Linked DNA regions of Homo sapiens. The protein of the gene in region 1 purifies or fractionates together with the protein of each later gene. This does not show direct contact. Each region holds a gene or a part of one and is shown in the gene's direction. Other genes may lie near its edges. The genes, in order: RDX, LSR, CTTN, UCKL1, ARHGAP1, KIF11 and CMAS.

Region 1 (3,500 bases):
AGATTATTTTAAGTCTCATGGCATTACTGATCCAGCTGAAGACTGTTCTGGTAACTTCCTTGATTGCTGCAGCCAGGGTGTGCGTACTGCTTTGATGATAGAGGTGTCCAATCTGGCCCCAGAGAGTTCCTCAATTTCTAGCCTATTTTAGAGAAATCCTGCCTTTCCTACTTTAAGTTCCTGGTGTATATCTTTATATTGAATGTATAGCTTAAGCCATTTAAAAAAAACTATAAAAGTGATATATTTTATGGCAAAGTTTAAAAACTCAGAAAAATGTCAAGGAAAAGGTCAAAGTCCTCCTTACTCCCTGGAACACCCCAGCCCCTTTCCCAGTCCTGTTTTCCATAGGTAGCTGCTGTCGGCAATTCCTTGTTTATAGAAAATGCCAGTAGGTATGCAGGGATAAACATATACTTTATATCCCTTATTTGTGATTTTAAAGTCTTGTTAAAATAGGGTTATATTGTAACAGACATTGAAAGGATGCTTATTAACTTGTGTTAAACATTGAGTAAATCATATTTCTCATGTTTTCATCATTTGAATAAAAGCACACAATAGAATTCCCTACGCTAATTCTCAAGTGTGTGTATGTGCAAATTTGTTTGTGTACAGATTTTCTTGATTAATGATTGAAGATGAAGTTTACTTTTTGTTTTCTAGCATATGGCATATAGTTGACAATGAGAAATGGTGTCTTTTAAAAAAGGAGGTTTATAATTTGGTGTGGGAAATAGCCACATCTTGCTCTTTACAAAAAAAGTTTGCCAACTCCTTAGAAAAAACATCCTGTTGAAAGGATATTTTAGATACAGTATTGAAGAAACAGGTACTTCATTGTTTATTTTCTCTAAGATTATAGAATTTATAAAGCTATTAGTAATTGAGATAATGGACTGTTTTCTTCTGAGTTGTAGATAATCTCTATGGCTTTCAGGACCTTAAATGTTTTTTTTTTTTAATTTATTTGTGAAAAGTTTAAGTCAACTAGGACTGACTGCAGGTAAATTTGTGAAGTGAGCGCTCTTCAGTTTTGAGCCCTTAGATCCTTTAAGATGCATTGGCATCAAATAGCAGAAAATTCTCCAACTGGTTTAAACAATGAGGAAATTTAATGTCATTTTTTTCTTCATTTTTTTTTGAAAACAGAGTCTTCCTCTGTCACCCAAGCTGGAGTGCAGTGGCACTATTACAGCTCACTGCAGCCTTGACCTCCTGGGCTCAAGTGATCCTTTAAGTTCCTCCCACATCAGTCTCCCTAGTAGCTGCCAACACAGGCGTGTGCCACCATGCCTAGCTAATTTTTTTTTTTTTTTTCCAAGACAGGGTCTCGCTCTGTTGCCCAGGCTGGAATGCAGTGGCATGATCTCAGCTCACTACAGCCTCTGCCTCCAGGGTTCAAGCGATTCTCCTGCCTCAGCTTCCCTAGTAGCTGGGATTTAAGGCACATGCCACCAGGCCCGGCTAATTTTTGTATTTTTAGTAGAGACAGGGTGTTACCATGTTGGCCAGGCTGGTCTCAAACTCCTGACCTCAAGTGATCTGCCCGCCTTGGCCTCCCAGTGTGCTGGGATTACAGGTGTGAACCACTGTGCCTGGCCAACAACTAATTTTTTAAAAAGCCTTTTTGTAGATACGGGGTATCCCTATGTTGCCCAGGCTGGTCTCAAATGATCATCCTGCCTCAGACTTCCTGCCTTGGACTTTCTGCCTCGGCCTCCTGAAGTGCTGGGAGGATTACAGGTGTGAGCCACCATGCCTGGCCAAAATTTAATGTCTTGCATACTAAAAGTCCAGAGGCTCAAGAATGGTTCAATAATGACATCAAGGACTCCTTCTCTTTCCAACTCTCTTCCCTGTGATTTTCCCTATTAACTTCATACTAAGACAGCCCTTACCCATCTCAATTTGGCTGCTGCAAAGGAGCCAGGAGCGGTGGTGTGGACCTGTAGTCCCAGCTACTCAGAATGCTGAGGTTGGGGTATCACTTGAGCCTGGGAGGTCAAGCCTGCAGTTAGCCCCTTGTCCCAGTTTGGCTGCTGCATCCCATCCAGACAGGGCAGTATCCAAAGGAATAAGAGGAACTGTTTCCAGAAACCCCCAAGCAGATGTCTTTCGAGCCTCATTGGCCAGGATTGGGGCACATTCTATACCTAACCAGTCAACTGGCAAGGGTAATGGAATTGCCCTTTCTTCCAACTCTGTTCCCAATAGATACTTCTTTTTTCTTTTTCCTTCCTCCCTCCGTCCCTCCCTTTTTCCCTGTCTCCCTCCTTCTCTCTGTCACTGTCACCTCTCTGCTGCTGGAGTACAGTGGCATGATCATAGCTCCATGCCACGAACTCCAGGGCTTTGAACTCCGGGGCTCAGGCAGTCCTCCCACCTCAGCCTCTGGAGTAGCTAAGACTACATGTGCACACCACCATGCTTGGCTGATTTTAATTTTTTTTAGAGATACAGTTTCACTATGTTGCCCAGGCTAGTCTCAAACTTCTGGCCTCAAGTGATCCTCCTGCCTCAGCCTCCTAAAGTGCAGGCAACTGCACCCAGCCCTGTTATTTTCATTATTCATCTATATTACATGTCTTCGGTCCTTTTTTTACCCCCACCCAAAGTCATATCCAAAATTGATCCATTACAGATAGTCATATGTAGTGAGCTCATATCTTTGTAGGTACCAACTTCAGTTAAATTATGAAAGGAAAAGTGTTGATTCTTGTTAAAATACTTGGCAAATTGTGGTCCATGGGCTAAACCCAGCCTACTGCCTGTTTTTATAAAGTTTTATTTGAACACATCGTAGCTGACTTGTTTACATATTATCTATGGCTGCTTTCCTGCTACAACAGTAGAATGGTTTCAACAGAGACTGTGTGGCTTACAAAGCTTATAATGTTTACTTACCTGGCCCTTTACGGAAAAAGTTTGCCGACCACTGCTTTAAGATGTCAGTCGTACATTTGGACAGTTATTATATGCCACATACTCTTTGCATTTGAGAATGGAAAGATGAGTAAAATACTCAGGAGTTCTCACTCTAATGGGCAGATAGATGTGCCATATTGTATTCATAAAGTGTGTTAAGTGCTTTTTTTTTTTTCTTTTTGAGACTGTCTCTGTTGCCCAGGCCAGAGTGCGGTGGCTTGATTATAGCTCACTGTGACCTTGACCTCCCAGGCTGAAGTGATCCCTCCACCTCAGTCTCCCAAGTAGCTGGAACTATAGGAGCTTGCCACCACTCCCGGCTTTTTTATTTTTTGTAGACACGGGGTCTCACCATGTTGCCCAGGCTGTCCTGGGTTCAAGTGATCCTCCCGCCTCAGCCTCCCAAAGTGCTGGGATTACAGGCGTGAGCCACCACACCTGGCCTGTTAAGTGTCACAGTAGTGTGTATAAGTTAATTAATACTCCTTGCAGCAGCATTTTAAGCACAGTATTCTGTGCTGTGAGTTCTGGATGTTTCTTGCTTCCTCTGTTTTTTTTTCTTTGTTAAATCT
Region 2 (3,500 bases), on another chromosome or scaffold:
CCGTGGTCTCAGCCCAGGACCTCCAGGGGAACAATGAGGCCTACGCAGAGCTCATCGTCCTTGGTGAGTGGGCCTGGGAAGGGGGAGGCATGGCCCTTCCTTTTGTCCGCTTCTGTTCTGTCTGCCCTCCCCTGTGTCCGCCCTCTGCCCTCCAGCTTACCCTCTGGGCTCTGTCGCCTGCTCTGCTCTCCCCCAGGCTCTGCCAGTCACTTAGGCTCCCCTGTGCCCTGCACCCCAGGCAGGGACCACTGGCCCACAGTGCCTCCAATCACCCAAGCCAAACTAAGAGAAGAGTGGAGACAATTGGAGACTCTGCCTTTTCAAAGTCTCATTTTTAAAAAAAATCCAGACTTGGGGTCCGGGTGCGGTAGTTCATGCCTGTAATCCCAGCACTTTGGGAGGCCGAGGCGGGTGGATCACTTGAGGCCAGGAGTTCGAGACTAGCCTGGCCAACGTGGCAAAATCCCGTCTCTATAAAAAATATAAAAGCCAGGCGTGGTGGTGCACATGCCTGTAATCCCAGTTACTCAGAAGGCTGAGGCATGAGGATTGCTTGAACCTGGGAGGCAGAGGATGCAGTAAGCCAAGATCAAGCCACTGCACTCCAGCCTGGGCGACAGAGTGAGACTCTGTCCAAAAAAAAAAAAAATCCAGACGTGGTCAGAGTCCATGGGCAGTGAATGAGGACAGTTGATGGTGTGCAAAATCGACCCACCTCTTGCTACATCCCCAAGGCCTCATCTCACCCGAGTCCCTCGCCAAAGCACAGCGGTTTTGCCGTGTGCCCTGCTGGGATGGCGCTGCATGGCACACACACTGTGTAAGTTTGAGTGCAGCTGAAACGAAGCCGATTCCAGACACCCAGGGGCAGGGCGGGGTGTCCGTGTGGCTGGGAGGCCTCCTTGTGTTAGGGGGATGTTGCCATCGGCCAGGTGCCCTGCTGTAAGCCAACACATGGAGTCTTGTATGACATGTGCTCTGCATGAGTGATGCCGCTGGGCTGTACACTGCCATCTTCACATGTGTGAATGAGCACGTGACTGGGGGGTACTTGGGCTGCAAGACAGAGTTCATGTGTGGGGGATGGAACACGTGCACCAGTGACCCAGGAACCTCTGCCTGTTCTTCGGTAAAATGCACCATTTGCATCAGCAGTTCCCAAAATTAGTCTCCAGGTCTATTTACACTCTAAAACATTATCGAGGGTCTCCAAGAGCTTTTGTTTGTTTCTGTGGGTTTTATGTCTATCTGTTGCTTAACATATTAGGAATTAAAATGGGGAGATTTTCCTTTTTTTTTTTTTTTTTTGAGATGGAGTCTCGTTCTGTCGCCCAGGCTGGAGTGCAGTGGCTCGATCTCGGCTCACTGCAAGCTTCACCTCCTGGGTTCACGCCATTCTCCTGCCTCAGCCTCCCAGGTAGCTGGGACTACAGGCACCCGCCACCACACCCGGCTAATTTTTTTTGTATTTTTAGTAGAGACTGGGTTTCACCATGTTAGCCAGGATGGTCTCGATCTCCTGACCTCGTGATCCACCCACCTGGGCCTCCCAAAGTGCTGGGATTACAGGCATGAGCCACTGCCCGGCCTTAAAATGGGGAGATTTTTCAAGCCCAAGATACACAAGGAAGACTGGGCAACATGGCAAGACCCTGACTCTACAAAAAATTTTAAAATTAACCAGGCATGGTGGCATGCACCTGTGAGCCCAGCTTCTTGGGAGGCTGAGGCAGGAGTATCGCTTGCACCCAGGAGGTCAAGGCTGCAGTGAGCCGTGACTATGCTACTGCACTCTAGCATGAGTGACAGAGACCCTGGCTCAAGAAACACAAACACACACACACACACACACACGCATATAGTCCATTAGGCATCAGGGCGATGATGGCATCAGGGAGCCTGGGAAACTCTACTGGACATTCATGGGAGAACAAGTGAAAAAGGCAAATAACATCTTAGTGTTATTCTAAAATTTCTTCTTTTGGCCTTGTGGACAGGACCACGCTTTGAGAGCTGTGACTGACATGCCTCTGTCCTGTTGCGAGGGCCTATAGTGCCAAGTGCATGAGCTCTGGGGAGGGCTTCGTGGGTGCAGAGCTGGGCCTGTGGAGGCCCCTCAGACACAACACTGGTGGGGCTCAGAGCTCCAGGGGCACTCGAGGGAAGACAAGAACCGGCTCTGAGATGCGTGAATGTGACAGTGCATGAGTAGAGATGGAGACCTTGTGGGTCCCAGAACCAGGACTGCATATGACTTTCATATGTGGGTATTTTTGCCTTCATGGGTCCCTTCCTGTTTTAAAAAAAATGTGTGATTATGTTGTCACAAAGAGTTTATTCCTGTATATTGTGTTAATTTGTGTTCAGATTTGTAAAGTAAAATTAAACCATTTCAGCCAGGTGTGGTGACACATGCCTGTAGCCCTAGCTACTTACCCCAGAGGCTGAGGTGGGAGGATCGCCTGAGCCCACGAGGTTGAAGCTGCAGTGAGCCATGATCACACCCCTGCACTCCAGACTGGGCGACAGAGCTGAGATCCTATTTCGTGGGCCCTAGGTCCCTGTGCCTGCTGGAACAGGACATCCCTATCACCGTGGTTGGAGCCCTTTGGGGTGCTAAGACCTATGAATGAGGGAAACTTAGGGTGCCCAAGCTGAGGTAGAGCCCTCAGAACCCCCTGGGATTTGTATTGGAGCCCTCGTGGCATAACACAGGTGGATTATGCAATGGGAGTTTCTTACCTATAAGCACCCACATGTGGGCGGGTGGAGGGTAGGAGCCATGCACTAGGGCTTCAGCCCCCAGCCCCTTCCCGCTTCAGGGCACACCTTGCACTTGGCCAGCCTGGAGCTGGGCTTTCGGGGGTGGCACAGCCTGGGCTGGCTCTGGCCAGCATAATCTGTTTCTCTTTTGTCCCTCCAGGGAGGACCTCAGGGGTGGCTGAGCTCTTACCTGGTTTTCAGGCGGGGCCCATAGAAGGTACGGGGGGTGGATCCTGAGTTGGGCTTCTCGGGAGCTCCCATACATCACCTACTGCTTCTGACTCTAGTTAGTATCCCCTTCCCCACTAAACCCTGCTCACTGTGGACCCCTCACTAACCTGGCCTGACTGTGGCTCTGAGGCATCTAGTGGTCTGGCGCTGGGCCTAGGCTAGGCTGGGCTGAGGAGAGCCTGGGGTGCAGGCCAGGGCTCTGTGACTGGCACCTGCGGTGCTCTTGAGGGTGTGGCGTCTGGGCAGCTGGCTCTCTCTTTGGTCTGGGGGCTGCAGTCTGTCTCCCTCTGTGCAGGCTGCCTCGTTTTCTGCCTTGTGTTTTTTGCACCTGGGGGAGGGCCGTAACTGGGGAATGGCCGGGATGGTAGAATGGGGAGTGTGCTGTGCCCAGCCTCTGGCACAAAAAATCCAGCCAGGGCTGCAGGTTCCTTGGTGAGCTTTGCAAATCGTCCCCGACCTCAGTGCTGGCTCCGCACCATGTACCCCTGCTGTGCCGTTAGCCCTGT
Region 3 (3,500 bases), about 40 Mb from region 1:
CCTCCCAAAGTGCTGGGATTACAGGTGTGAGCCACTGTGTCCAGCCTCTGCTGTACTTTAAAAAAAAAAACTTTTTTTCTTAATTCTTTTTTTTTTTTTGAGATGGAGTTTCACTCTTGTTGCTCAGGCTGGAGTGCAGTGGCGCAATCTCGGCTCACTGCAACCTTCACCTCCTGGGTTCCAGTGATTCTTCTGCCTCAGCCTCCCGAGTAGCTGGGATTACAGGTGTGGGCCACCACGCCCAGCTAATTTTGTATTTTTAGTAGAGATGGGGTTTCATAATGTTGGTCAGGCTGGACTTAAACCCCTGACCTCAGGTGATCCACCCACCTCGACCTCCCAAAGTGCTGTGATTACAGGCGTGAGCCCCCTCCCCCAGCCTGTTTTTTGAATTTTTAAAATATTAGCTAATGATTTAACTTAGAGATGGGGTCTTGCTATGTTGCTCAGGCTGGACTCCGCCTCCTGGGCTCAAGTGATCCTCCCTTCTCAGCCTCCTGAGTAGCTGGGCTGCAGGCACACACCCCCACCTCTGGTTACCACTGTTTGTGTTTCTGTTATTACACATAAATAGCACCTTTAAATACTGTCTGTATTATTCAGTGGTCCTACAGTGGACCTGAAAGATTTTTGTTTTTTTAATCAAAGGATAAAATACTTGCATGTTCACTGATTTCGTTGCTCCTTTTAAAGTAGTCCTTTTTTGTTTGTTTTTAGATTACTCCAAAGGTTTCGGCGGCAAATACGGTATCGACAAGGACAAAGTGGATAAGAGCGCCGTTGGCTTTGAGTATCAAGGCAAAACGGAGAAGCACGAGTCCCAGAAAGGTGTCTTCCGTTTTATCTTACCCTCCAGCCAGCAGCTAGTAATGTGACAGGTGGTAGCCACACCGGAAAAGGAAAAACAAAGCGTTATTGATAGCCCTTAACGTAGATGTCTCTTTTTCATGAAATGCCCAACTTGAAAACGGCACATCCAGAAACACAGCTGCTAAATAGGAACTCGCAGCTTGAGTGTTATGGCGCTCCAGCCCCAGCGGCGTTGCTTATCGTGGTGGCCACACCCCGCACGTCTGTGTTGCCCGTGTGAGCCTGTGCTGTCTCATGGTGCGGGTGGAAGCCGCATGCGTGGGAGCTTCCATGGGGTCCTGTCTGGCTTAGTCACGATGCTGAGGTCATAGACTAGGTTATTTCCTGCCACTCTCCAAGGAGGGCCTCTTCATGGATGTTATCTAAAGTATTACCAAAGATCCGGAAGGGAAGAGTAGATTGAGTGAATCATATGCGTTTAACTGTATTGAAAACATACTTTCCACCTGTGACCTGCACTACCTGTTAATGATGGGTTCTGGCCTTTCATTGTGCATGTAGACTATGTGAAAGGGTTTGGAGGAAAATTTGGTGTGCAGACAGACAGACAAGACAAATGTGCCCTTGGCTGGGATCACCAGGAGAAATTGCAGCTGCATGAATCCCAAAAAGGTACATTCACTCTGCCTGTATGCGAGATGGTTTTAGAAGTTTGTTTTTGTTCCTTGCGGGGTCAGTTGGTATGTGTTGTGTCTGCGTGTGCCTGCTGCACATTGTTTTGTCTTCACTGTTTGAAGTTGTCCTGTGTGCCCCCCCAATCCCCCAGTTCCCTCCAGCTAGTGTAGTCACAAACCCTCCCTGCTGACACGGGGTGGTACCCCAGAGAGCTGGGTTTACCTGGAAGTGGGTTGCACGGGCCAAGCCTGCAGCAGGGGGCTGGGTTTACCCAGGAGTGGGGACATGGGTCAAGCCTGCAGCGGGGGGCTGGGTTTACCCGGGAGTGGGGGCATGTGTCAGGCCTGCAGCGGGGGGCTGGGTTTACCCGGGAGTGGGGACATGGGCCAAGCCTGCAGTGCTCCTCATCCAGGCTTCTTGTCTATAAAGTGGGCCACGGTTTTTGGCAGGAGATACTTACTTTTGAACCGAAAGTGTTTTCTTGTTGGAATGGGTGCCCCTTCCCTGGAAAAAGGAGCCTGAGGGGGCTGAAAGCCTCTCAGTGTGACCCAGCCCTGAGAGAAGCAGGAGCGGGGCTAATGGGGCTGCAGCGCCCTCCGAATCTGCAGGGTCTCTCCTCCCGTGTACACAGATACGCACACTCGTCTGCAGTGTGCGTAGGACGCTAAGAATGAACTGCACAGCCGGGAGTGCCTTTACTGAATTATTTGAAGTACAGTTCTTAGGCTGTTCCAGATCTTCGCTGAATGTTCAGATTTTAAGTTCATTCTTTAACGTTGACCTCTGGAGCCACCTTCTGGCGCTGAGCCTGGGAGTAGGATCTCAAAGGCCCTAAGCTCAGGAGAGCCCTTGCTTTCTGGAAACTGTGTTTGATTTTTGCGCATGCTCATGCAATTCTAACCCAACTGTGTTTCCTCTTTTGGTTGTTTTCCCCACCGTTGCTTGTGGATTTTCAGATTATAAGACTGGTTTTGGAGGCAAATTCGGTGTTCAGTCGGAGAGGCAGGACTCCGCTGCTGTGGGGTTTGATTACAAGGAGAAGCTGGCCAAGCACGAGTCCCAGCAAGGCACAGTTGCCACCAGCCTCCTACCCTCCCCCCGACCCTCCTGTGCGGCCACTTCTAGCACAGACTTCAGGGCTCACCGTCAGCACCTGCAACACAGTCCTCCTGTGTCACCACTTGTCAGCTGTCAGGCTGTTCGGCACTTTAAACCCATTTCTAGTAGAGCGACACTGATTTTGAGTGGTTCACTTTCTTCCCTGTGAACTTGTGATCTGTGTATGGCAGGATGCGCCAGTTAGTGTGTGGGTGCCATCTTTCTAACCCGGTGACCCATCCAGTCTCTGGACTGGGGCATCTCCGGTCTCCAGCAGCATTCTGCCCGAGGCTGTTCTGCTGTTATTGGTGACTGCCGTGAGCCACTGAGTCAGGCCTTCCAGATGAGGAGAGAGGTGTTGGTTCAACCAAACCACTGGCCATTTGACCAGGGGCTTCGTAGCAGCAAGGGCCAGGAGACAGGCGTGTTCTGTGTGGTTTCTGTGTTTCATTTGTGGTGGTGTTTTTGGCCGGGGTTGGGAGGTTTTTTGTTTGTTCTGTTTGATGACACCATATGTGTGTAACATCTCCACACAGAGCCACACAGTATGTACGTGAAGCCAGCTCTGCATCCTTCCTTAGAGCAGTTATGTTGTTACCTTCAAAATTTGGACTTGGTTATTAGAACCTGAACACATAATTGGAAAAACAGTAATTCCCTAACCTTGCAGGGAAGACTCTAGGCTTTCCACCTGCAGCGTTAGAAACACACAGCAGTGTTCAGGTGTGGGCAGGTAGACACACCTGGGGTGGTCCCGCAGACTGCATGGAGATGGCAGTGGCTCTCCGTGGCATCACTGCTGCATGACAGTGTGACTTTCATGTGGATCTGTGTTGCTGCAACGGAAGTCTTTGGCTGGTAGAATTTCCACATGGATTTTTTTTTTCTCTTAAAAAGCAAGAGAACAAACTGCGATT
Region 4 (3,500 bases), on another chromosome or scaffold:
GCCTGCCTCCGGCTCCCCTCCAGTGCCTGTGGAGCAGGAGAAGGAAGCCGGGCAACCGCAGGCAGCGGCAGCGGGATGGGCACCTCTGGGACCTATCTGTGCCGGCAGCCTGCCTGTTCCTCACAGAGGGTCTCCACTCCCGCCGGCAGGCTTGGGAGGCGGCAGTGCCTCTGGGAAGACCACTGTGGCCAGAATGATCATCGAGGCCCTGGATGTGCCCTGGGTGGTCTTGCTGTCCATGGACTCCTTCTACAAGGTGGGCCCCCGCCCAGCTCCCCCGAGGACCCCTTTGTCCTCTCCCTGACCCTGGACCCCCTGCAAAAGTAGGTCCCTGGTCTCAGCCCCAGCGTGGCTGCTCCTGGGAGGCCTAGAGCCCCTGTCCGCTGGCATTGGGTGAGGGCCCTACTGTGCCCACAGCTGCTCCACAGCCTCCCCCACCAGGTGCTGACTGAGCAGCAGCAGGAACAGGCCGCACACAACAACTTCAACTTCGACCACCCAGATGCCTTTGACTTCGACCTCATCATTTCCACCCTCAAGAAGCTGAAGCAGGGGAAGAGTGTCAAGGTGCCCATTTATGACTTCACCACGCACAGCCGGAAGAAGGACTGGGTAGGCCAGGGCCCTGCAGAGGGGGCCTCGGGGGGCTGCAGGCACATGAGCCAGGCTCCGCAACTCCTGGGTTTCTTCACAGAAAACACTGTATGGTGCAAACGTCATCATCTTTGAGGGCATCATGGCCTTTGCTGACAAGACACTGTTGGAGGTAAGCACCCGCCGGGAATACCCACCCCGCTGGTATCTCAGCCCTGGCCGCCCTGTCCATGAGGTGTGCGTCCTCCTGCCCTGTCCCCAAGGCCTCCACACTGTATAGGCCTAGGCCAGCCACTCCCTACCCCAACCCCAACCCCAGGCATGCCACAGCTGGGTCCATCTGCCGGCCCCAAAAGGCAGAGCGTGGCTGCCTGAGGCAGTGGTTCCTCTCCACCGGCTGAGGCCTGTGCGCATACCTGGAGTGTCCTTGGCGTTCTCGTCCCTTGCCGTGGTCCTGACGGACAGGTGAGGACCCAGGGCTGGTGTGTTTGAGAGATTTTGCTGTAGCTCAAGGGGGCCTTCAGGACACAGCTGAGTGTGACTCAGGTTGGCCTGATCCCAGGGCCCAGGTCCTGCCCCTTGTACAGGCCCAGAGGACTCCATCATCCGGCACATAGCAGCCCCCAGCCTCCACAAGGCCTCTTCACGGGCCAACTACTGTGTGCTGAGCATGGGGACAGACCCTAAACTCGCCACGTCCCCCATTCCCCAGTGTGTTGGTGCAAGTTACCCCAAGCAAAGTAAGGAGATCACATGTGCCCAGCCCCATTCCTGCCTGATTCCTTAGCCAGCCACCATGCCATGCCTCTTCACCTAAGCCCCTGACGGGCAGCACCGCATCCCCAGACACCCCCACCTCCCCACTCCTTCCCACCTGCCAGGGTGCCCTGGGGAAGTGGCTCGGGCCAGGCCCACGGACCAGGTGCAGACACCCCCACCTCCCCACTCCTCCCCACCTGCCAGGGTGCCCTGGGGAAGTGGCTCTGGCCAGGCCCACGGACCAGGCGGCCTCAGTGCAGGGGCTGGTCCCAGTGTCTCCATGCCCACTGCTGGCATCTGGCCACTCACTGGCCCGCTGTCTCCACCAGCTCCTGGACATGAAGATCTTTGTGGACACAGACTCCGACATCCGCCTGGTACGGCGGCTGCGCCGGGACATCAGTGAGCGCGGCCGGGACATCGAGGGTGTCATCAAGCAGTACAACAAGTTTGTCAAGCCCTCCTTCGACCAGTACATCCAGCCCACCATGCGCCTGGCAGACATCGTGGTCCCCAGAGGTGAGCCTGCTGGGCTGCCTGTTGGGTGGGTGTCGGGCAGGCCAACGGCCCAGCCCCCGGTCACCCGCCCCCCCATCCCGCCCCAGGGAGCGGCAACACGGTGGCCATCGACCTGATTGTGCAGCACGTGCACAGCCAGCTGGAGGAGGTGAGCGGGGTCCCACGTCCCCACGGCCTAGCCCCCAGCCCCTCTACCCACTTCTCCGCTGCCACCACCCCCAGTGGCCTGGTCACCTCATCCCCCTGCGTTCACTGTCCCCTGCCAGGTGCCAGCCCTGAGTGTCCTGAGCCTGCTTGGCCAGTCAGATTGTCCAGCCCAGACCCCATCCCGTTGTGCTGTGCAGGGCCTGGGTTCCCTGAGGAAGCTGGGGTGGGGGTACAGGTGCTCAGGACCCAGCCGAGGGTGCAGCCCGCTCAGCACACCCAGCCTGAGCTTTTGGGAAGACAGGCATGACCTGCTGGCCCAGGATTGTGGGGTTTCACTGCTGAGTCCCACGCCAGGCCAGGCTCCTCTCTTTCTCAGGGGGTCACCCCAGGAGCGACACCCCCACCAGAGGTCCCCTGCTCCCTGAGGCATTCTATGGCTGGGCCTTGGAGCCTGAGTGGCTCTGAACACACTCCCTACCAGGATGTTGAAGGCCTGAGGCCTGCAGAACAGAGCCCAGGGTCCTGGCTCTGATTGCCCCAACGCAGAACTGCAGGTCTGGCCCAGGTGGTCCCCAGGTTACAGGCATTAGAAGCTTGCCACCCCCCATGGCTGGCTGTGTCCCCGCGGGCCTGCAGCATGTCCATTCCTGGGTGGGGGTGGCCTGGCCGCCTGCCCTGGTCACTGACGCGCCACCGTTCCCTTGTGTCTTCCTGTGTTGCTGCCACAGCGTGAACTCAGCGTCAGGTAAGACTTGCACAGCTGTCTGCACAGATGGAGGCACTTCCAACACCTCCAAGGAGCTCTGGGGTCTGGGCTGTGATCCAGCCAGGCAGCTGGCTCTTCCCCAGTCACAGAAGGGGTGGTGTGGAGTGGTCCCAGCCCTGCTTCTGCCTCCCCTTGCTGGCAGATGAGGACACTGAGGCACAGAGACGTGAAGTAGCTTGCCCAGCGTCACGGAGTCCTGACCCTGTCCTGGCCAGACTTTGCTGGAGGCTCCCCTGACTCCTGAGTCTGTCTATGGGATTTGACCCCAGAGAGCACAGCTGTCCTCCTGAGCCAGCACTGCCAGGCCTCTGGGGCAGTGACTACAGACATGTCCCAGCAGCCAGGGAGCCTGCTGTACCTCCTGTGCCCAGCCTCACGGACCAGTCAGCTTTCCCTGGTTGCAGGTGGAGGGCCTCGCGCCTGTCCTCCCACCCACCCGGGTCCTGCTTGCCCCAGCTCTGTCCTCGCAGCCCGCACAGCTCTGCCAGCAGGAACTGGGCAACTGCAGCAAGAAGCTTGGGCTGGGCCGGGGCCGCATCCCACTGTCCCTCCCCAAGGGCAGGCATGCAGGGGGGTCAGCCACAAGGGACCTGCCCTTCTCCCTGCCTTCTGTGGGTTGGGAGGCTCCTGACTGAGCCACCTGGAGGGAGAGCCCTCACATTCAGAGCCCTCCAAAGAGTTTGCCAAATGTTGGAAATGCCTCCAGGGCCCGTCC
Region 5 (3,500 bases), about 64 Mb from region 1:
TGTGCCTCCCTGATTGCTGAGAGGAGGCTGGATTGGCATCACCAGGCACTCATTTGGTGAGACCGTGGAGATGTCCGGGAGAAGCCCTTGTAGGAAGGGAGGGTGGGTTATAGCCTCAGCTCTCCCTGCCGGGAATAGTTGTCATGCCCCAGGGTCAGATTTGGCTCAGTCCCAGTGGGTTCTTTCCAGTGGTGTGCTGGTAAATGGCTCTCTGGAGAGGGGGAAAAAGGCCATGATTTGTAGCATTTGCAGTTTCTGCCTCCCAGCTCTCTAGCTACCAACATGATGTCAACTGGCTTGCAAAATTCCTGACAGTTGAACAGCTTAACAAATGTGTGAGCTGGCTGTAGCACATGACTGGCTCCATCAGCCCAGCCCTACCTCCCAGGTCCCAGGCCTGCTGGTCCGGTTGTGGGTGGGGCTGGTTTGAGGGGGCCCAGAATGCCTGGGGAGACCTGTTGGTGATTAACTCCAGGGCCACCCTGGAGTTAGGACCAGCCTGGGCAACATAGTGAAACCCTGTCTCTACAAAAATAATAACAATAAATTAGCCAGGTGTGGTAGCCTGTGCCTGTAGTCCTAGCTACTTGGGAGGCTGAGGTGGGAGGATCCTTTCAGTCCAGGAGTTGGAGGCTGCAGTGAGCTATGATTGAACCACTGCACTCCAGCCTGGGTGATAGAGCAAGATCCTGGCTCAAAGAAAAAAAAAAAAGATTACAGTCTAGTGAAGTGGTTCTTAAAACTGGTCACAGTCCACTTTGCAACTATGAAAGGTATCCCCAGGATAGGGGGGATCTCTTTGACTGAAAAAAAAAAAAAGTGCAGCCAGGTGCGGTGGCTCACACCTAGTAATCCCAGCACTTTGGGAAGCCAAGGCTGGTGGATCACGAGGTCAGGAGTTCGAGACCAGCCTGATGAACACGGAGAAACCCCGTCTCTACTAAAAATACAAAATTAGCTGGGGTTAAGGCCAGGCGCGGTGGCTCATCCCTATAATCCCAGCATTTTGGGAGGCCGAGGCGGGCGGATCATGAGGTCAGGAGATCGAGACCATCCTGGCTAACACAGTGAAACCCCGTCTCTACTAAAAATACAAAAAATTTTCTGGGCGTGGTGGCGGGCGCCTGTAGTCCCAGCTACTCAGGAGCCTGAGGCAGGAGAATAGCGTGAACCCGGGAGGCGGAGCTTGCAGTGAGCGGAGATCGTGCCACTGCACTCCAGCCTGGGCAACAGAGCGAGACGCCGTCTCAAAAAAAAAAAAAAAATTAGCTGGGTGTGGTGGTGCATGCCTGTAATCCCAGCTACTCAGGAGGCTGAGGCAGGAGAATCGTTTGAACCCAGGAGGTAGAGGTTGCAGTGAGCTGAGATCACGCCACTTCACTTCAGCCTGAGCGACAGAGCGAGACTGTCTCAAAAAAAAAAAGTGCACATGCTTGTAATATTTGTCATATAACATCATGGAGGTGCTGTGTCTGCTGAGCACATTGGTGGAGCCCTGGTTCAGAACCCAAAGCTTCCCACTTACAAAGTGCTGTGGCCAGCTGAGAGGAGACACCACAGGCCTCCAGCCCTCCCCCCAACAGCTTCCCTAACCAGTTGCTACCTCTTATATTTTAGACCCAGGGGCCTCACAGACTTTCTGCCCTGGCTGAATCCTCAAATCTGCCAGCCAATGAGGCCTGCCTTGCTGCTGGTGCAGATGTGAGGTGCGGGGACTCATGGGCTGGAAGGAAAGATCCTTTTGGTAGCCCCCATTGTCCTCGAGCATTTCCCCCAAATCCTGGTTATTTCCTCGCTTAGAAGGAGGTAGGCAGATGAGGCCCCCTCTTCCCAGGCTGGTGGTAGGCATCTCTGGGGTTTCTGAAGCTCCAGACTAGTGAGACTGGGCTTGCCAGTCTAACCCTTTGTCCCTGGCCCCTGCCAGTCTGCTTTTCCTTCCACTGTCAGAGCCAGTGGGAAGTGAATCAGAGCAGGCACATAGCCCCAGAGCCACCCCCAGCTGGCCTCCGGGATCTCAGCACCTCAGGATCTAGGCTAGGGTACGAAAGAGAGCAGGTACCACCTGGTCCTTCAAAACAGACCTGCCGGGATGGAGCTGCACCTCCTCTGCAGACAAGCTGGTAGAGGATTCTCTACTTGCAAATCTGGAGACGTTCTGTCCTGAGCTTTGGGAAACTCACTATCTGAAGCAGTCTGACCCATAACCAAAGCATAATCAAGAACAAACACAGAGGCCAGGTGCTGTGGCTCATGCCTATAATCCCAATACTTTGGGAGGCTGAGGCGTGCAGATCATCTGAGGTCAGGAGTTGGAGACCAGCCTGGCTAACATGGTGAAACCCTGTCTCTACTAAAATACAAAAATTAAGGCTGGGCATGGTGGCTCACACCTGTAATCATAGCATTTTGGGAGGCTGAGGCGAGCAGATCACCTGAGGTCGGGAGTTTGAGACCAGCCTGACAAACATGGTGAAACCCCGTCTCTACTAAAAATACAAAAATTAGCTGGGTGTGGTGGGACATGCCTGTAGTCCTAGCTACTCAGGATGCTGGGGCAGGAGAATCACTTGAACCCGGGACGCAAAGGTTGCAGTGAGCCGAGATCGCGCCATTGCACTCCAGCCTGGGTAACGAGCAAAACTCCATCTCAAAAAAAAAAAAAAAAAAATTAGCCTGGTGTGCTGGCACCTGCCTGTAGTCCCTGCTACTTGGGAGGCTGAGGCAGGAGAATCTCTTGAACTTAGGAGGTGGTGGTTGCAGTGAGCCCAGATCACTCCACAGCACTCCAGCCTGGATGATAGAGACTCCATCTCAGAAAAAAAAGAAGAACAAACACAGAAATATAACTAGAACCAGGCATCCCATAGTTTAATGGTGACCTGCGATTTTGTGCAGGCTACCAAAACGTATTGAATACCTGCCACATGCCAGACACTGGACCAGTACTGGAGACTGTAGGTGCCATGGTACGCAACTGTAATCCCAGCTACTGGAAAGCTGAGGCAGGAGTTCAAGACTAGCCTGGGCAACATAACAAGATTCTGTCTCAAAAAATTGTTTTTAATTAAGCAGGTGGGATGGCATGTGCCTGTAGTCCTAGCTACTCAGGACATGGGAGGCTAAAGCAGGAGGATTGTTTGAGCCCAGGAGTTCAAGGCTGCAGTGAGCTACAGTTATGCCACTGCACTTCAGCCTGGGTGACAGAGCAAGACCCTGTCTCTTAAAAAAAAAAAAATCACAGCTTGCCAGGAGTAAACAAAGAAAAAGAACAAACAAAGACAATGAGACACAGCCTCTGTCTTTGAGCTGCTCACAAGCCTGTCAGGGAGACAGGTACATAAACAATTCTACAGGAGAGTGAAGGGTCAGGACAGTGATGGGTGACGGTTTATGCTGGGAGCCATGAAAAGGGGCAGCTAACCTGTCTGGGGAGAGAGGGCGAGGACACAGGATTCCAGGCGGCGATTATGCCTGCATTGAGTCTTAAGGGTTGGTGGGGG
Region 6 (3,500 bases), on another chromosome or scaffold:
TGTGTGTGTAATTTTAGAGTTTTCTTTTCTTTTTTTTTTTTTGAGATGGAGTCTCGCTTTGTTGCCAGGCTGGAGTGCAGTGGCGCGATCTCGGCTCACTGCAACCTCTACCTCCCAGGTTCAAGCAATTCTCCTGCCTCAGCCTCCCGAGTAGCTGGGACTACAGGCACACGCTACGACGCCCAGCTAATTTTTGTATTTTTAGTAGAGACGGGGTTTCACCATGTTGGCCAGGATGGTCTCGATCTCTTGACCTCGTGATCCACCTGCCTCAGCCTCCCAAAGTTCTGGGATTACAGCCGTGAGCCACTGTGCCTGGCTTTTTTTTTTTTTTAATTAACTATTGAACTTCTGTTTATTATTATTATTATTATTTATTTATTTATTATTTTTTGAGATGAAATCTCGGTCTGTTGCCCAGGCGGGAGTGCAGTGGTGTGATCTCGGCTCACTGCAACCTCCGCCTCCCGGGTTCAAGCAATTCTGTGCCTCAGCCTCCGGAGTAGCTGGGATTATAGGCGCTCGCCACCATGCCCGGCCAATTTTTGTATTTTTAGTAGAGATAGGGTTTCATCATGTTGGTCAGGCTGGTCTTGAACTCCTGACCTCGTGATCCGCCCGCTTCGGCCTCCCAAAGTGTTGGGATTACAGGCGTGAGCCACTGCACTTGGCCTTATTTTTATTATTTTTTTCATCAACTTTTAAGTTCTGGGGTACATGTGCATGATGTGCAGGTTTATCACATAGGTAAACCTGTGCCATCACAGTTTGCTGCACAGATCAACCCATCACCTAGCTATTAAGCCCAGCATCCACTAGCTATTCTTCTTGATGCTCTAGCTCCTTTTGCCCCACTGAATTTTAGGGTTTTCTTTCTTTTCTATTTTTTTTTCTTTTGAGACAGACTCTCGCTCTGTCACCAGGCTGGAGTGCAGTGGCACAATCTTGGCTCATTGCAACCTCTGCCTCCTGGGTTCAAGCGATTCTCCTGCCTCAGCCTCCCGAGTAGCTGGGACTACAGGCATGCGCCCATGCCTAGCTAAGTTTTTGTAGTTTTAGTAGAGACAGGGTTTCACTATGTTGGCAAGGCTGGTCTCAAACTCCTGACCTCAAGTCCCCTTGGGGTTCCTGAAGTACTGGGATTATAGGTGTGAGCCACCACGCCCGGCCAGATTTTCTATATAAAAGATCATATAATCTGCAGACAGATAATTTTACTTTTTCCTTTTCTTTCTTTTTTTCTTTTTTTGAGATGGAGTCTCGCTCTGTCGCCCAGGCTGGAGCGCGGTGGCGCCATCTCTGCTTACTGTTACCTCTGCCTCCTGGGTTCAAGCAGTTCTCTGCCTCAGCCTCCCAAGTAGCTGGGATTACATGCACATGCCACCACGCCCAGCTAATTTTTGTATTTTTAGTAGAGATGGGAGTTCATCATCTTGGCTAGGCTGGTCTTGAACTCCTGACCTCGTGATCCATCCGCCTTGGCCTCCCAAAGTGCTGGGATTACAGGCATGAGCCACCGCTCTTGGCCCTCAACCTTTTCCTTTTCAATTTGGATGCCTTTTATTTTTATTTTTCTTCCTTTTTTTTTTGAGATGGAGTCTCGCTCTGTTGCCCAGGCTGGAATGCAGTGGTGCAATCTCTGCTCACTGCAACCTACGCCTCCTGGGTTCAAACGATTCTCCTGCCTCAGCCTTCCGAGTAGCTTGTACTACAGGCATGTGCCACCATAAACAGCTAATTTTTTTTTTTTCTCGTATTTTTAGTAGAGACGGGGTTTCGCCGTTTTAGCCAGGCTGGTCTCGATCTCCTGACCTCGCGATCCGCCTGCCTCAGCCTTCCAAAGTGCTGGGATTACAGGCGTGAGCCACCATGCCCGGCCCTTGTTTTTCTTTCTTGCCTAATTACTCTAGCTAGAACTTACAGTATTATGTCGAATGGAAGTGGCAAAAGTGGGCATTGGGCATCCTTGTCTTGCTCCTGTTCTTTTATTTGTTAGTTTGTTTGAGATCCTCCTGCCTCAGTTTCCTGAGTAGCTGGGACTATAGACACACTACTACACCCAGCTAATTAAAAAAATAATTTTTTTTTTTTTTTTAGAGATGGGGTCTCGCTATGTTTCCCATGCTGATCCTGAACTCCTGGCTTCGGGTGATCCTCTACTCTTACCCTCCCATAGTGCTGTGATTACAGGCATGAACCACTGTGCTGGCCCTGTTCTTGTTTTTAGAGGAACATTCTTCAGTCTTTGACCATCAATTATGTTTGCTGTGGGTTTTTCATATGTTGCTTTTATTTTGTTGAGGTAGTTTCACTCTATTCCTAGTTTGTTGAGCATTTTTATGACTAATGGGTTTTGAATTTTGTCACATGCTTTTCCTGCATCGATTGACATGATTCTGTGGTTTCCTTCATTCTGTTAATGTGGTATATTACATTGATCAATTTTTACATGTTGGACCATCCCTGTATTCCAGGAATAAATCCCACTTGGTCATGGTGTATAATCCTTGTGCTGCTCAGTTCAATGTGTTGGTATTTTGTTGAGGATTTTTTTTTATCAGTGTTCATAAGGGATAGTGATCTGTAGTTTTCTTGTAGTTGCCTTTGTCTGGCTTTGGTATCAGGGTAATGCTTGCCTCACAAAATGAGTTGGGAAGTGTTCTCTCCTTTGCCAGATTTTTTCTGGGAAAAGATTGAGAAGAACTGGTATTAGATCTTCTTGAAATGTTTTATAGAATTCACCTATGAAACTATCAGATCTAGGGCTTTTCTTTGTCAGGAGATTTTTGGTTAGTGAGTCCATCTCTTTACTGGTTATAGCTCCATTCAGAATTTCCATTTCTTTGTGATTTAGTCTTTGTAAGTATTGTGTTTCTAGGAATTTGTTCAGCTGGGTTATCCGATTTGTTGGCATACAATTGTTGAAAATACTCTTTCAACAATAAGAGAGAAGACACAAATAACTAGTTCTTTTGTTTCCAGTTCCTTAAGTTGTAAAGTTAGGGTGTTGATATGAGATCTTTCTTGCTTTTTAATGTAAGCATTCATAGCTATAAATTTCCCCCTTAGCACTGCTTTTGCTGTGTCCCGTAAGTTTTGGTATGTTGTATTTTCATTTTCATTAATCTCTAAAATTTTCTAATTTTCCTTGTGATGTCTTTGAACCCTGGTTACTTAAACACACACACACACACACGTGTGTGTGTGTGTGTGTGTGTGTGTGTGTGGTTTTTTGTTTGTTTTGAGACTGAGTTTCGCTCTTGTTGCCCAGGCTGGGGTGCAATGGCGCGATCTCGGCTCACTGCAACCTCTGCCTCCCGGTTCAAGCGATTCTCCTGTCTCAGCCTCCAGAGTAGCTGGGATTACAGGCGCCTGCCACCACGCCTGGCTAATTTCACACACACATTTAAAAAATACATCTACCTGCTTTTACTTCAGAATCTTTGCAATTTCTGTTCTCTCTGCCTGAAAATTTTTTCCACCAAAATATCTACAGGGCC
Region 7 (3,500 bases), on another chromosome or scaffold:
ACTATTTCAGATTTCAAGATGGAGGAAAATGGGGGCTCCTGCGTTCGCCCTGCATAGAGTGACATAAGTAGATATCACGGGATTCTTGACCCCTAGCCAGTGGCTCATCTTGTTTGCTAGGCTTTCTTTGATTATTTTTTCTTACTGACTTTATCCCTTGATTTAAATCCCTCTATAAATATTAAAGGGAATAAACGAAATAAATAAATGAAATCCAGGGATGTTAGAAGATTTTCTTTAGTTTTTCACTTTCTTTCCACTCATGATAATTGAGCATAGACAAACATGCAGTTCAGCCGAGCGTGGTGGCTTACACCTGTAATCCTAGCATTTTGGGAGGCTGAGGTGGGAGGGTCACTTGAGGTCAGGAGTTTGAGACCATCCTGGCCAACATGGCAAAACCCCATCTTTACTAAAAATTGGTCGGGCGTGGTGACACATGCCTGTAATCTAATCCCAGCTACTCAGGAGCCTAAGGCATGAGAATCGCTTGAACCTGGGAGGTGGAGGTTGCAGTGAGCAGATAATGGGCCACTGTACTCCAGCCTGGGTGACAGAGCAAGACTCTGTCAAAAAAACAAACAAAACATGCAGTTCATCTTTCCCTCAGTAGATATCGAAAGAGTGGGATAAAAGGAAAAATATATATGTGTGTGTGTATATGTATACATATACACACACACATATACACATTATATATACACATTATATATACACGTTATATATAATTTTGTATGTATATAAAATAATGTGTATATATGTTTGTGTGTGTATATATATATATACACACCAAATATATATATATATATACACACACATACACCAAAGACTATAAGTCATTAAGATATCTTTGCATAAATCACTATTAAAACATGGTGGGGGCCGGGCACGGTGGCTCACGCCTGTAATCCTAGCACTTTGGGAGGCCGAGACGGGCGGATCACGAGGTCAGGAGATCGAGACCATCTTGGCTAACACGGTGAAACCCCGTTTCTACTAAAAATACAAAAAATTAGCCGGGCGTGTTGGCGGGCGCCTGTAGTCCCAGCTACTTGGGAGGCTGAGGCAGGAGAATGGCATGAACCTGGGAGGCGGAGCTTGCAGTGAGCCGAGATCGCGCCACTGCACTCCAACCTGGGAGACACAGCGAGACTCCGTCTCAAAACAAAACAAAACAAAACAAAAAAACATGGCAGGGTTTTGTTGTTGTTTTTTGTCTTTTTTTTTGAGACAGGGTCTCGCTGTGTCTCTCAGGCTGGAGTGCAGTGGCGCGATCTCGGCTCACTGCAACCTCTGCCTCCCAGGTTCAAGCGATCCTCCTGTCTCAGCCTCCCTAGTAGCTGGGATTACAGGTGTGCATCACCATGCCCAGCTAATTTTTGTATGTTTAGTAGAGTCCGGGTTTCACCGTGTTGGCCAGGCTGGTCTCCATCTCGTGACCTCAGGTGATCCACCCGCCTCGGCTTCCCAAAGTGTTGGGATTACAGGTGTGAGACTCCAGGCCTGACCAAACATTGTGGCTAGAGTAGTATTTACATCTTCTGCATTTAGCAGTGGGAATTTGTGACTGTCCAGGAAACAAAACTTCAATAGAAACTGGTACCCCTCTCCAAAACAGCATTTTGCCTACTCATCATTTTGTAAAGGCTAAATAGGCAACTGTGTAACCTGCGGTTAATAGAGTATTAAGTTAAATTCTTTTGAGCTAATGAAGTCATGTTCTTCATGTTTGTTGTTATCAATGGCTATAACCCAGCTGATTCTACATCTATATACCCATTGTTTGTTGTTTAAAAAAGAAAGAGTTGTTTCATCTGATTTTTTTTGAGCCCAGACTTGGGCATTTATTATCTTCTAAGCTTGAAACTGTTTCACCTTTAGGGTTTGGCTAAGCCAAGTCCATTTTTTTTTTTTTAGCAAGCATATTAAAATATTTTATACAATATTTTGGATTTGGATGGAGAATAAGCAAGATCTTTAATTTTCTTTAGATTTGACTTCTAGTGCCTTTTTAAAAACGTTTATTTTAGGTTCAGGGGTACATCAGGCTTGTTACAGAGGTAAGTTGCATGTTGCAGGGGTTCGGTGTACAGATTATTTCGTCATTCAGGTAGTAAGCATAGTACCTGATAGGTAGTTTTTTGATCCTCACCCTCCTCCCACCCTCTACCCTCAAGTAGGCCCCAGTGTCTGTTGTTCCTTTCTTTATATAAAGCATATCTAGGACTGCATTTTTATTCATTAATATATTTATATACAAAATACTTTATAATTTCTTACATTTTATACTCCTTTGGATCTGTAACATTATTATCATTGTGCAAAAAATATTCTCACATTATATAAGCTGTATTTTATGGTTACAGAGCTCCATTTTATTGTTAATGATTTCTTTTGATTTGGCTGTTAATTTCTTTTGATATCTGAACAGTGTATGGGTTTCGACAGACCATGATGAAATTGAGAATGTGGCCAAACAATTTGGTGCACAAGTTCATCGAAGAAGTTCTGAAGTTTCAAAAGACAGCTCTACCTCACTAGATGCCATCATAGAATTTCTTAATTATCATAATGGTATGAATTTGATTAATAGTTTATTCAAACCTTTATGTACTTTTCTACTTCCTTTATTATCTTATAAGACTTGTTTTAACATTTGAATTCCAAACCTTAATATTACTTGCTTGCAAGGAACTTTTTTTTTAAATATCCTTTTCATTTCTCTTGTCTTTTTAAGAGGTTGACATTGTAGGAAATATTCAAGCTACTTCTCCATGTTTACATCCTACTGATCTTCAAAAAGTTGCAGAAATGATTCGAGAAGAAGGATATGATTCTGTTTTCTCTGTTGTGAGACGCCATCAGTTTCGATGGAGTGAAATTCAGAAAGGAGGTAATCTCTTTTCAGTCTTTATTTTAGCTGATTTTATTGAGAATCAATTTTTTTGTATATAAATATCCTTTAGGCATGAGGAGAGTAAAAGGGGAGCTGTAAAAGAGAGTATTTGACTCATTACTTTAGTAGGTAATGACATTTACAATCAGCTGTAAATCTGTTATCGAGCCAACACAGCTAGACCAAATTAATTCTTTGCTTTACTCTTTACAAAGGGACATTCTAATCCTCTTATTTCTGTTTGCCTTTTGAGGCAGATATGCTGTTTTTCTAGATCAAATACTTTTATGTTTGTTCTAGACATGTTTGATGAACTCCATACAAGTCATATAGAGATAGAAAGCATCCACCAAAGTGTTCTGAAGGATTTCAAGAATGACATTTTGAAGTTCTTCCCCAAATTCCTAACTCCATATATAAGAAGGGTTCCCTAGGGTTTACTAGGCATTTTGCCTGCCATGTCCAGTGTGCTATAAATCTTATCCAGAGAATTATTATAAACACTGTGTTTTTCCATTCAGTAATGTACATTTTAGTTGTTTCGTAGGGATTCCATTTTCTGTTGAAATTTTCCATTTTTTTATCCATTTTAAAAAAAGGTCAT

Evidence for each region.
Region 2: the proteins of RDX (region 1) and LSR fractionate together in Homo sapiens (co-fractionation; one large-scale study listed by BioGRID). This does not show direct contact.
Region 3: the proteins of RDX (region 1) and CTTN fractionate together in Homo sapiens (co-fractionation; 2 studies listed by BioGRID). This does not show direct contact.
Region 4: the proteins of RDX (region 1) and UCKL1 purify together in Homo sapiens (affinity purification with mass spectrometry; one large-scale study listed by BioGRID and IntAct). This does not show direct contact.
Region 5: the proteins of RDX (region 1) and ARHGAP1 fractionate together in Homo sapiens (co-fractionation; one large-scale study listed by BioGRID). This does not show direct contact.
Region 6: the proteins of RDX (region 1) and KIF11 purify together in Homo sapiens (affinity purification with mass spectrometry; one large-scale study listed by BioGRID and IntAct). This does not show direct contact.
Region 7: the proteins of RDX (region 1) and CMAS fractionate together in Homo sapiens (co-fractionation; one large-scale study listed by BioGRID). This does not show direct contact.

Annotation. Positions count from the first base shown.
Region 1 is NC_000011.10:110,290,115-110,293,614, reverse strand, and holds part of RDX (radixin), read left to right. Parts: intron 1-3,500. UniProt on the Homo sapiens protein: Probably plays a crucial role in the binding of the barbed end of actin filaments to the plasma membrane.
Region 2 is NC_000019.10:35,259,002-35,262,501, forward strand, and holds part of LSR (lipolysis-stimulated lipoprotein receptor isoform 2 precursor), read left to right. Parts: coding exon 1-63; intron 64-69; exon of another isoform or gene 70-820; intron 821-1,997; exon of another isoform or gene 1,998-2,401; intron 2,402-2,923; coding exon 2,924-2,980; intron 2,981-3,500. UniProt on the Homo sapiens protein: Probable role in the clearance of triglyceride-rich lipoprotein from blood. Binds chylomicrons, LDL and VLDL in presence of free fatty acids and allows their subsequent uptake in the cells.
Region 3 is NC_000011.10:70,419,029-70,422,528, forward strand, and holds part of CTTN (src substrate cortactin), read left to right. Parts: intron 1-717; coding exon 718-828; intron 829-1,371; coding exon 1,372-1,482; intron 1,483-2,441; coding exon 2,442-2,552; intron 2,553-3,480; coding exon of another isoform or gene 3,481-3,500.
Region 4 is NC_000020.11:63,942,917-63,946,416, reverse strand, and holds part of UCKL1 (uridine-cytidine kinase-like 1), read left to right. Parts: intron 1-149; coding exon 150-256; intron 257-417; coding exon of another isoform or gene 418-441; coding exon 442-612; intron 613-694; coding exon 695-766; intron 767-890; exon of another isoform or gene 891-1,334; intron 1,335-1,682; coding exon 1,683-1,872; intron 1,873-1,958; coding exon 1,959-2,020; intron 2,021-2,395; coding exon of another isoform or gene 2,396-2,551; exon of another isoform or gene 2,552-2,747; coding exon 2,748-2,764; exon of another isoform or gene 2,765-2,860; intron 2,861-3,500.
Region 5 is NC_000011.10:46,690,620-46,694,119, reverse strand, and holds part of ARHGAP1 (rho GTPase-activating protein 1), read left to right. Parts: intron 1-3,500. UniProt on the Homo sapiens protein: GTPase activator for the Rho, Rac and Cdc42 proteins, converting them to the putatively inactive GDP-bound state. Cdc42 seems to be the preferred substrate.
Region 6 is NC_000010.11:92,599,630-92,603,129, forward strand, and holds part of KIF11 (kinesin-like protein KIF11), read left to right. Parts: intron 1-3,500. UniProt on the Homo sapiens protein: Motor protein required for establishing a bipolar spindle and thus contributing to chromosome congression during mitosis. Required in non-mitotic cells for transport of secretory proteins from the Golgi complex to the cell surface.
Region 7 is NC_000012.12:22,052,718-22,056,217, forward strand, and holds part of CMAS (N-acylneuraminate cytidylyltransferase), read left to right. Parts: intron 1-2,431; coding exon 2,432-2,574; intron 2,575-2,737; coding exon 2,738-2,893; intron 2,894-3,500. UniProt on the Homo sapiens protein: Catalyzes the activation of N-acetylneuraminic acid (NeuNAc) to cytidine 5'-monophosphate N-acetylneuraminic acid (CMP-NeuNAc), a substrate required for the addition of sialic acid.